2 separate regions of the Homo sapiens genome follow, and region 1 is linked to region 2. A link means that fine-mapping ties the variant in region 2 to the expression of a gene that starts in the linked region. Tissue or cell type: whole blood. Region 2 holds a variant in brackets; the other region holds the start of a gene. All regions are shown on one strand. Distances are from middle to middle. Region 1 holds the start of TMEM252 (transmembrane protein 252). Region 2 holds the start of LOC124902174 (a long non-coding RNA gene).

The links. PIP is the estimated chance that this variant, and not a neighbour inherited with it, causes the effect. A credible set is the group of variants that fine-mapping cannot tell apart.
Region 1: TMEM252 starts here. The variant in region 2 is the best candidate, but not a certain one, in a credible set for the expression of TMEM252 in whole blood (TOPMed, PIP 0.66).

The regions. Positions count from the first base shown.
Region 1 is chr9:68,538,117-68,543,499 of GRCh38, reverse strand. It overlaps TMEM252 (transmembrane protein 252), which reads left to right and starts at 2,617. Exons shown (of 2, transcript NM_153237.2): 1 at 2,617-2,963. The coding sequence starts at 2,686. TMEM252-DT (TMEM252 divergent transcript) reads right to left here and starts at 2,475. Exons shown (of 5, transcript NR_187592.1): 1 at 2,270-2,475; 2 at 858-1,122.
Region 2 is chr9:68,498,805-68,504,187 of GRCh38, reverse strand. It overlaps PGM5 (phosphoglucomutase 5), which reads right to left. Exons shown (of 11, transcript NM_021965.4): 10 at 4,827-4,961. It overlaps LOC124902174 (a long non-coding RNA gene), which reads left to right and starts at 3,504. Exons shown (of 2, transcript XR_007061565.1): 1 at 3,504-4,168; 2 at 4,735-5,307. The variant A/G (reference allele first, on the strand shown) is at 3,113.

The sequences.
Region 1 (5,383 bases), 39 kb before region 2:
GGGACTGAGTCCTTCCATCCCCCTGCCACTTCCTGGATTTTGCTCTTCCATACCTAATTTCTCACCAAAAACATACCACCACCACCATCACAACAACAACACTGCTGTGGAATGACAGGAGCCTCCTCAAAGGGCACTGGAGGGGAAGGAACTGTCTGACAAACTATAAGGCAATGGTTCTAGTGTACTTTATTGGCATGGAGGAGGAAAAAGTATAGAGAAACTTATTTACTCATGTGTTGATGTGATCACAAGAATGAGGCCTGACCTGTCATAATCCCCAGTCTAATTTCTGCCTCCATTTTTGTCTAAAACAGAGAAGCCCAACTGTCTGATGGGCAGTTCCGATTGAGAGTACTCTTCCTCCATCACCTGATTCTTAACATTATCCTGGGGCTTTACCATCTACCTGTTCCTGGGACCCAACTCCTAGTGCAGACCTTTCAGCTGGGGGTCCTGGGTCTTCCACAGATTTTTGGAATTGTAACAGCAATGATAATAACAATATTGGTGATGGTGATTATAGATAACCTTCACAGGGCACTCTCTGTGCCAGGTACTATGATAAATACTTAACATTGATTGTCTCTTCTGATTTTCAAAGTTCTAAGAGAATTTTTTTAGTTATCTACTGCTATCTAAAAAATGGCCACAAAACTTAGCATATTTTTAAAATATACTTTTTTTAAACTTTTGACCTCTTTTATTTGTTAAAATAGTGACATCCATAAACATGAAATGATTTGATCATAATGCATTCATTGATTATGGCTCTTGCCATCTTGTGGCATCCAGGACCCTGGCTGAAACGTTTTATCTCACAGTTTCTGTGGGTCAGGAATCCGAGTATGACTTACCTGGGTCCTCTACTTCAGGGTCACTGAGTCAAGGTGATGCTTGGGAGCAGAGTCATCTCAAGGCTCAGTGGGATGAGGATTTGATTGCAAGCTCACGTGGTCATTGACAGGATGCAGTTCCTCATGGGCTGACGGACTAAGGGCCTCAGTTCTTCAGTGACTGTTGGCCAGAACCTGCCCTCAATTCCTTGCCTCATGGGCCTCTCCAATATGGCAGCTTCCTTCTTCAAAGGGCGTAAGCCAAGAGGACAATAGAGAGAGTCTGCTAGAAAGATGAAAACCACAATCTTGTGTAGCCTCCACGGAAGTAACTTCCGATCACCGTTACCATATTCTATTGATTAGAATGAAGTCACTAGGTCCAGCCTACACTCAGGGGAGAGGATTACTTACACAAGGACATGAATATCAGGAGGTGGGATCCTTAGGGATCATCTTAGAAATATTCCATCTCACAGTTTGGGGAAGGAGGGAATAAGAGCTGTTTTAAGATTACAAAGACAATATCAAGACTAGAAGATCAAGGTAGTTCAAGGTCGAAATTGAAGCTAAGAAAGGTAAAGGCTAAGGGTTGGAATGGAGAAGTGCCTTATATAGTTTTTGATCCATAGTGTGTACCTCTCTAATATCCGTGTCTCCCAGCCCTAACATGAAGGTAGAGCTAAGGAGATGGTGAGTGTGAGACTAAAGGTTATATGAGGGATTATTAGGGCACGCCACAAAAAACTGCTGCTCTCATTGGGAAAGTAAATGGAAAATAATGGTAATGGAGTAGTGGAGTGGAACAGCAGCAAAGAGGAACTGAAGATAAGCTATCCTGAGTAAAAGCAACCCAGGGTTCCTATGGGAAGGAGACTTTTGGCAGAGACATGCCACATTATCAAATAAAAAAGGGCAGAGCCAGGGCATAAAGCACGTCTGAAATAAGCTATCCACAATCAAAGACAGTCAAGCTAAAGAAAACAAATTCCAGCCAGGAAACAGAAGGCTGGTTCTGGAAAGATTTTTTGAGGCAATGCTACATAGAGCAGAGGTGTGGAGGAGAGGACAGGGAACATTTTTAGCAGCATCCTCTAAAACGAATTCTATTTCATATGTACTTTATGAAAGGGGGAAAGATTGCAGGAATTACAGGCCCAAAATCCCCCCAAATTCCCGAGGCTCTGTCTATTATAGTCCTTTTCTCCAGCACTCTCCTTTCCCTCCCACTCAGGCTCTTTCGATCTTGTCAACAGAGCAGGAACCACGAAGTTCACACTCTGAACTTCTGTCTTGGAATTATGCCAGTATCATAGTGTGGGGGCAATAAGTGGGGATTCATTGAGGGAGGCAAGACAAACATGTTAACAGCCTTGAAGAAATGCCTTTTTAGTACAGAAAAAGGGAGAAGGAATCAGGAAGGGATTTCTTACCAAACCTCAAAGAAGATCGTTCTTTAAAGAGTGCTAACTTCTCCAGCTTTTAGTGGGGAATTGCCCTCCATGGGGATTAAGAGACCAGCGCCTTTTAATCAAAGGAGGGCTGTACGTTCAAATAACTGGGAACAGCTGAGTGTCCCACCCAACTCTGAAGAACAAAACAGCTACACGAAGCCACTCCTGCCTGCAGTATACAATGCTATGTTTTTTGGCTAATTCTCCAAGGATATTACACTTACTTTCAATGGTTAATGAATAGCTTCTAAGTGCCTGTTTCATTTAGTTGTCCAAAGGCCAGTGGGTCCCAGAGCATATAAAGCTGCAAGCTGGCTAATGAGCTCATTCTCTTGGAGCAAGCAGGGAAGCAGAGGAGCAGCAGGGTCAGGGTGCTGGGTTCCTAAGGTGCAAGGATGCAGAACAGAACTGGCCTCATTCTCTGTGCTCTTGCCCTCCTGATGGGTTTCCTGATGGTCTGCCTGGGGGCCTTCTTCATTTCCTGGGGCTCCATATTCGACTGTCAGGGGAGCCTGATTGCGGCCTATTTGCTTCTGCCTCTGGGGTTTGTGATCCTTCTGAGTGGAATTTTCTGGAGCAACTATCGCCAGGTGACTGAAAGCAAAGGAGTGTTGAGGCACATGCTCCGACAACACCTTGCTCATGGGGCCCTGCCCGTGGCCACAGTAGACAGGTACGTGCTGACAGGCAGAGGGACCAAGAAGGGCTGAGATGGGCTGAGTTGTGTAAGATCTGAGTAATTTCTGATCCTACTATGGAGCGACTTACATGTCCCATGGGCTGTCTGTCTAGAACCAAAGCTTTATTGTCAGGGAATTACTCTGGGGTTGTTATTAGGAAGAGTGGCGCCATCTTTGGGGAAAACCATGACGCAGGGGCAACTCATCTCAGAGAAACCCTACCACCACCCCCAGTGAAAACCCACCTAAGCCAATTTAGAAACCCAGGCTCTTTTGTTATATCATGGCAGCTGTCATTAATTAGTGGCAGGTGATGGTTAGTTACTTCCCATAACCTGGCTATGAGGTTCTAAGGAAAGCAAGTCCCAGACCAAATTCTGCCACACAACAAATGAAGAAGCAGGCATAAAATGAGTCCTGGAATCTCTGTGAGCTCAGAAAAGTCCCAGTTTACTGTCCTTTTAGGTGTTGTGATCTCACCTTGCATAAAACATTCCTTCAGGGGAAGGTGATAATATTCTAGAGGCAAGATTCATTCTTTCTCGCCATCTCATACATTAGGATAGTTATCATCAAAAAACAAAACCAAACAGCTAGTGTTGGTGAGGATGTCAATAAATTGGAACGCTGTGCATTGCTGGTGGGAATGTTAAAATGGTGCAACCACTGTGGAAAACAGTGTGGAGACTCCTCTATACATTAAATATTGAATTACTGTTTGATCTGGCAATTCTACATTCTGAGTTTATACACAAAGGAACTGAAAGCAGGGATTCAAATGGATGTTTGTACACCAATGCTTGTAGCAACATTTATTCATAATAGCCCAAATGTCCATCAACAGGTGAGTAGATAAACAAAATGTGGTATATACATGCAATGGAATATTAGCCTTAAAAAGGAAGGAAATCCTGGCACATGCCACCACTTGGATGAAGTTGAAAACATTATGCTAAGTGAAACAAGTCAGTTACAAAGGGCAAATATTGTATAATTCCACTTACATGAGTACTTAGCGTAGTCAAATTCACAGACACAGAAAGTAGAACAGTGGTCCCAGGGGCTGGTGGAAGGAGAGACTGGGGACCTATTGTTTAATGAGTAGAGAGTTTTAAGGTGATGGTTGTAGAGCAATATGAGTGTATTTAGTGCCACTGAGCTATACACTTAAAAACAGTAAATTTTATGTCATATATATTTTACCACAAGAAAAAAAAGATTCAGTTAATCTTATAGTCAGTATCAGGCAACAAGAAACCTCCTAATTCTTGGCTAGCCACAGGACCATTTAGGGATAACACCCTAGGCATCATTCTCAAGATACAGGCTACAAGACTATAATTATTTTGCCCTCTTCGTGCAAGAGTAGAAAGTATCTAAAATATTTTAGCTACTCCATGTATCTTGAATATAAGTAATCTTACCCATGAGCATCCACTTTTGGCATCCTTTATGCTAATTAATAAGATAATAATTATGAAAACCAAAACTTATTTCCAATGTTATACTAACCAGCAGAGTTTCTGGGTTTGATTAAAAATTAAGAGAAATGAAGTGATTGTAGAAGATGCCTCTAGAGTGATGATTTCTTTTTGTATAAATGTTAGAGGACTACCTCTAGAGTGTGAATTTCTGATAAATGTAACTGATTGCCTTTAGGATATAGCTTAAATTGACTAACACTGCATAATATTACAGTATACTGAAATGTTTGAAAGTAAATTATGGACATCGTAACACCCCCATTTTACTGCCTCTTCTCGCTGCATGTAATAAGATGCTTATCCCACGCAGAATGGCTGGCAAGTCAGCCTGGGAAGTCACATTTCTCCAAAGCATTTGCACTCAAAATGGATACCCAGGTTGAGATATCAAAGCAAATGGGTCTCCGATGATGGAATTCAGGGGACTGGGAATATGGATGGCAGTTGAAGGAGGGTGGGGTTGGGAGAGGTAGCTGGGATTTGGGGCAGGCAGCAGTCATCCTGGAACCTTTCACATCACTCCAGGGAACATCTCACCTTTCTGTGTAAAATGCCTTTACACATGTGCCCCGTGACTCAGCCTTGGCTATTCTGAGCGAAGGCTGAGATTTATGCCTTATAGTAGACAGCTTCTTCAGCTACTGGCTTTGGGCCTGGTAACATTTGGAATGGAGTTGTGGCTACAAATGGCAGTCCCTGTTCTGTTGTGGTTACACACCATAAACACTCCCTGTAGGCACTGGAAGGATCACTCTATAAATACACAACTCAGCCAAGCTCACCGGTCTCTCTTCCTCCCCTCTCCCCTTCCCCCAAATTCATTCATGATGGAGAAGCCAGGAGGATTTAGCAATTAGAAATGCCAGGCAAGATGACCAATGAGTACATCAGCCCCCGAATGAATGGCTGCTTTAGCCTACTGGCATAGA
Region 2 (5,383 bases):
TGGAATCCAATAAGCAACAGAAATAGAAGTCTAGAAGACAGAGATCGATGTGTGGAATGGTATTAAAAACAGGTGCTGCTCATTCTACAGTTTTAAAGAATTCAAGGTCCTGCTGCTAGCACTTCACAGTTCACCTAGCTCTTTGCTATTCAATGGGTGGCTCCTGGACCAGCAGCACAGTATTGCCTGGGAGCTTGTTAGAAATGCAAAATCTCTGGCCCTCCTCATACCTGAGTCAGAATCCACATTTTAACACATTCCCAAGGTGATTGGCCGGTAATTAGTTTGAGATGCACTTGTCTAATTAATATCATCTGGGAAATTTTTTAAAAACTACAGGTCCCACCTCAAAACAATTAAAGTAGAATCTCTAGGACTGGGGCCAAAGCATGGGTACTTTCACCAAGCTGCCTGAGTGGTTCTGATGTGCAGCCTGCCTGGGTTGAGAACCTCTGAGCTGACTCTTCTCATTTCTGTATGTTCCCTCTTTCCTTCCAGGTTTCATTGCTAGTTTTCTTAGAAAGCCATCTCCAAAGAGATGCGGTTCTAAGAGAGGATGCAGGCTGGTAGCTAGAGTAATCATGTCTCCTGGTTTATTGGGGACAATCTAAACATAATTACAATTATTATCTTTCGCTCACAAAAGTACAGATCCCCAACTTTGGCTGGATCGACTTAATGATTTTTCAACCTTATGATGGTGTGAAAGAGATACACATTCAGTAGAAACCATACTGTGAGTCCCCATACACCGATTTTTTCACTTTCAGTACAGTATTCATTTCATGAGATATTCAACACTTTATTATAAAATGGGGTTGTGTTAGATGATCTTCCCCAACCATAGGTTAATGTAAGTGTTCTGAGTTTGTTCAAGGTAGGCTAAGCTAAGCTGTGATGTTCTGCAGTCTAGGTGTATTCAATGCATTTTCAACTTATGATGGGTTTATTGGGGTGTAACCCTGTTGTAAATCTAGGAGCATCTGTATTCTGGTTTAGATGACAAATCATATGTTCTTCCTATGTAAAACAAAATGGCTCTATACTTTATTTCTGGATTACAAAGTCTTATTAAGAACAGGTAGAACAAAATGACAGATGACCTTTGGTTTGACAGGTGAATAAATATGAGGGACCTGGTTCTTAGGTATTAGTTGTTAAAGCCTTCTAGGTACAGTTTATCAAAAATACATACTTAAAGCCGGATGTGGTGGTTCACACCTGTAATCTCAGCACTTTGGGAGGCCGAGGCGGGTGGATCACTTGAGGTCAGGAGTTTGAGACCAGCCTGGCCAACATGGTAAAACCCTGTCCTTACTAAAAATACAAAATCAGCCAGGGATGGTGGCGGTCACCTGTAATCCCCGCTACTCGGGGGGCTGAGGCAGGAGAATCCCTTGAATCCAAGAGGTGGAGGTTACAGTGAGCTGAGATCATGCCACTGCACTTCAACCTGGGCCACAGAGTGAGACTTCCTCTCAAAAAACAAACAAACAAACAAACAAACAAATACTTAAATTCCTCAATTTTCAGGAAGACTGGGGGAAAATCAGGCCCCTCCCAAGGACTGGGGTGAGATCGGGTGTGACTGTATTCTGCCTTGAAAGTACTAAAGCCAAGGGTTGATTAGCCACGGGCTGATTATCAGTCTGTGATTTTCCTAGCCCTTAACAAAACTTCTCCTTCCTTTTCCTTTTGGATCTTCTATTGTTCCTTAACTACTCCACCCACAGGCTGAAAGGGACAAGGGAAGAAGGTCAACGAGAAGCTAATAATAGCAGCCCTGCTAATAAATTGGATGGGAAAGAAAACGGAAACAATTGTACTGTTTCTGGTTACCTGTGATTTTAAACCCTTTTGGCTCATTCCTTTTTCCAAATGATTACCAGCTGGTTTGAGGGCTCATTGAAGGCCTACTGATTGCTGGTAAAATTAAAATAAACTTGTATTTTAAAAAACTAGGTAGTCTTCCAGCAACAAGCCTTTGGAAGCTTTCCTTCCTGATTTACCAAGGACACAGAGTGGGATCAGGGCAAGAACCTGCCCATCTCATCAGGGCCCTCCCCGGCCCATCCTCTCCTTACCACCAATTCGTAGGCACATATGGATATAATTTTTAAAAAATATTTTTGATGTAGATAAGAAATTGATATTAACTTAAATAGCATAATCACTGTTCTACAAAAGGATGCAAATGGAAAATCTACATGTGAGTATGGTCTAAATGCATATAGATTATATCACAAGTTTTCCTAATTGCATCACTAGGATTGTTATGAGTATGTCTGCAAGGCAATCAGTGTAAATGCTTAAAACATGCTCTGTTCACATGTGTTCAAAATGTCTGGAAAAGAAACTATCCATGGCCAAAGTAAAATAGCCAGATATTAATAAGCCAGTTGAAGGGAACTCTCTGTTCTCTTGCAAAATAATTTAAGTGTAGATGGCTATTGGGTTAGAGTGGGTAAAACATCAAAAACTACCTGTTGAATTGGAACAAGATCAGCAATGGAATCTCTGCAGATTAGAGAAGGTGGAAGGGGTTCTTTTGGTAGCTGAGAAAGCAACACAAGCAGGTCTTTCCAGTCAGGCCCTGATCAGGAATAACACTAGCAGCTTCAGGAGTACATCTTACTTTTATCTCTGTTCAACAGTTAATCAAAGGCTTTTTAGAAGGCAGAAGCAGGTGGTCCTGGAAAGCAACCCTGTAAGGAGCCCTCAAAATGCTCCCACTTAAAGGCTTAGGTAGAGTTCAGCAGTAATTAAGACAGGTTGGCCTGCTGAGAGAATCTTCTTGCTTTCCCCTAGGTGGTTAGATTTCTTTTAAAATCTTACTCTATGTTATATCCTGACTCAAATGTATTATGCAATAGGGCTTAAGTTGGTGAGTCAATGATGTATGGTATTTTAACAAGGAGTTCTATTTTAATGTAAAACTTTTAGCTAGATCATGTGCTACATACTCGGGGGCCCATCGAGCCAGGTCTAGGAAAACTCTTGCTTCTGAGGAGAAGGGAGGGGAAATCAGAAATTCCAACAGCAACGTCAGTGAAGGGATTCGCCAACCCTTCAAAGTGGCAAATTCTTTCCACCAACAGGATGAGAAATGTGC[A/G]GTCATGGGGACCAAAACCAGCATGACTTATGTTTCCTTTACTCACATGACCTTCTAAGAGTAGGCTGATGGAGACTTTCAGCTTCAAAGGAAGCCTTGGGAAAAGAAAAAAAAAAAGCACTGCTTTTGTGGACTGCCTCAGGGAGAGACTCTTGTGTGTATAGGATTGTTGTGACACTTGTCTAATGGCCTGGTCTCAGTCCAGTGCGGAGGGTAAATAAAAATAAGCAAATATCACAGCCACTTGCCCTGTGCAAATAGGGAAAAGAATGTTGAGGAAAAAATAGCCCGGAGTCAGAGTGAGTCAGAGTTGGTGAGGCCAGGAATATCATTCCTCACGTACGTAGCTCTGGACTTTTAGGCCCCTGCTTTAATCTCCCTCCCCAACATGAGATGTAGAATAGTGTTTTATTTGGAAAGACAGGGTAAGCCCCAAATTCTTGCATGATTTGGTACTATCTTGGGAGAAATGTACGCACTAACCAATTATTTTGGCAGAGTGTGTCCCATCCCCTGCATGGAAAGGCTATGATCCTGAGAGGAAGAGCCAAGGGCTTCATGCTGGCCACCTGCTTTGCCCACTCATGCTCTTGGTAACCCTGAGAATAGCTCTCAGCCTCCTCCAGCCTCTCCTGTCCCATCTAGGATGATTTTACTCCAGACAGATCTTCTGGCTGTAGGGTCAGGTGTAAGGATCTGTAGCACCCATTATTGCCAAGTTCTTTGAGACTCTCCAAAGAAACAGACCATGAAAAAAACAAAACAAAACAAAACAAAACAAAAAAACCCCTAAACTACTGACAAAGAAAGAAAAGCCTGCCAGGTATCTTACTCCATCAGGGCAAATTATAGCTAGAAATTCTGAGCACCTCTAAAATGAGTAGCAGTGAGTATTTCTCTGTTTCTCTACTTTTCCACAAAGGAAGTATGGCAGGTAGAACCAATGTTTTCATCTGAAAAAATCATCTTATCAAGGACCTTGCTTCAAAACCCAGATTGAAGACACCAAGAAGACAGGAGCAGCCAGCTGTATAGCTTGAAGTACCCAACATTAAAGTGAGTCATTTCTGGTATTAATTAATGTTGGCTGGAGCTTTAATGAATGTGGGAGTGGAGAGGCTTATGGTTGTGTTATTTATGATTTTTCTGAGTTCTTAATTAGCCTTATTGTTGAAAACATGAGGAGACTTTGCCAAACAGTCTGGCTTAGCCTTGTCAATGTGCTTCCTTAACTTAAAAGGCCACCTATATCCTCTCCTCTCAGAGTGGACAATGTAGCAATCTCAGAGACAAAGCCCATCTGTATTGGCACCTCAAGGTCATGGTCCAAATGTCTGGAGATTCAAAAGTTACATAAGCGTAGTCAAGGCTCTGAGAGTTTCACCAGTTTGACTCTAACGCTAAATTTCCTTGTCTATAAAAGGTGCTTTTTCTTTACCCCAATTAACAAACCACTCAACAGTCAAGAGAGGACAGTTGTTTGGGAAATGCTGGTCTAAACGGATTACAAATAGATGCGAGAGAGCAATTTTTCTGTTTCAAACACTGTAATGAACGAATTAAACTTGCTTGGAGTTGCCCTGAGCTTGTCCTCCAGCTGAAATTATCATGTACCTTTCCAGGAGGTAAAATAGCCCCACTAAAGGCCCATGGAGCTCTCTAAATTTGCCAGGAGCTGCGAGACACACTGCTGGGAGCACAGCTGTTTCTGTACCTGTGGCTCCTGGTCATGGCCGCTGGGATCCCTCTCGTAGCTCTCTGCGTACAGTCTGAGGGTGGCCCGCACACCACTGGAGGAACTGAGCCGGAAGATGAGCCGTGATGCATCCGAGAAAATGATCCTTAGGCCCTGAGACCAAGAACATCCAGAATGGAGCAGTGAGCAAATGAATACACAAGTAATAATCATTAATACCTGCCACAGAAATCAGCATGTTTTTATACCTCAACACAATCAGAATCAAGACCATTTATATTGGCTCTGGATACAGGGCATGTAATGAATGTGATGAACCTACTTAGAGTTACCCATTTGTCTCTTTATTCTATTTCCGTTGCTTTGTGGTTAATGTGGGGAAAGAGGAGCAAAGCTGTGAACAGATACTCAAGTTCTCTTGGGCTGGTGATATGGGAATCAGAAAGAAGTGGAAGTCACAGGGATGAAATGATATTCAATAAATATTCCTAGGGCCAAAGTTTGTCCCTTGTAAATCTGTGGATTAAGTGAAAGCAGGCAATTTGTCTATTACAGTAAGACGGATTGCCCACATT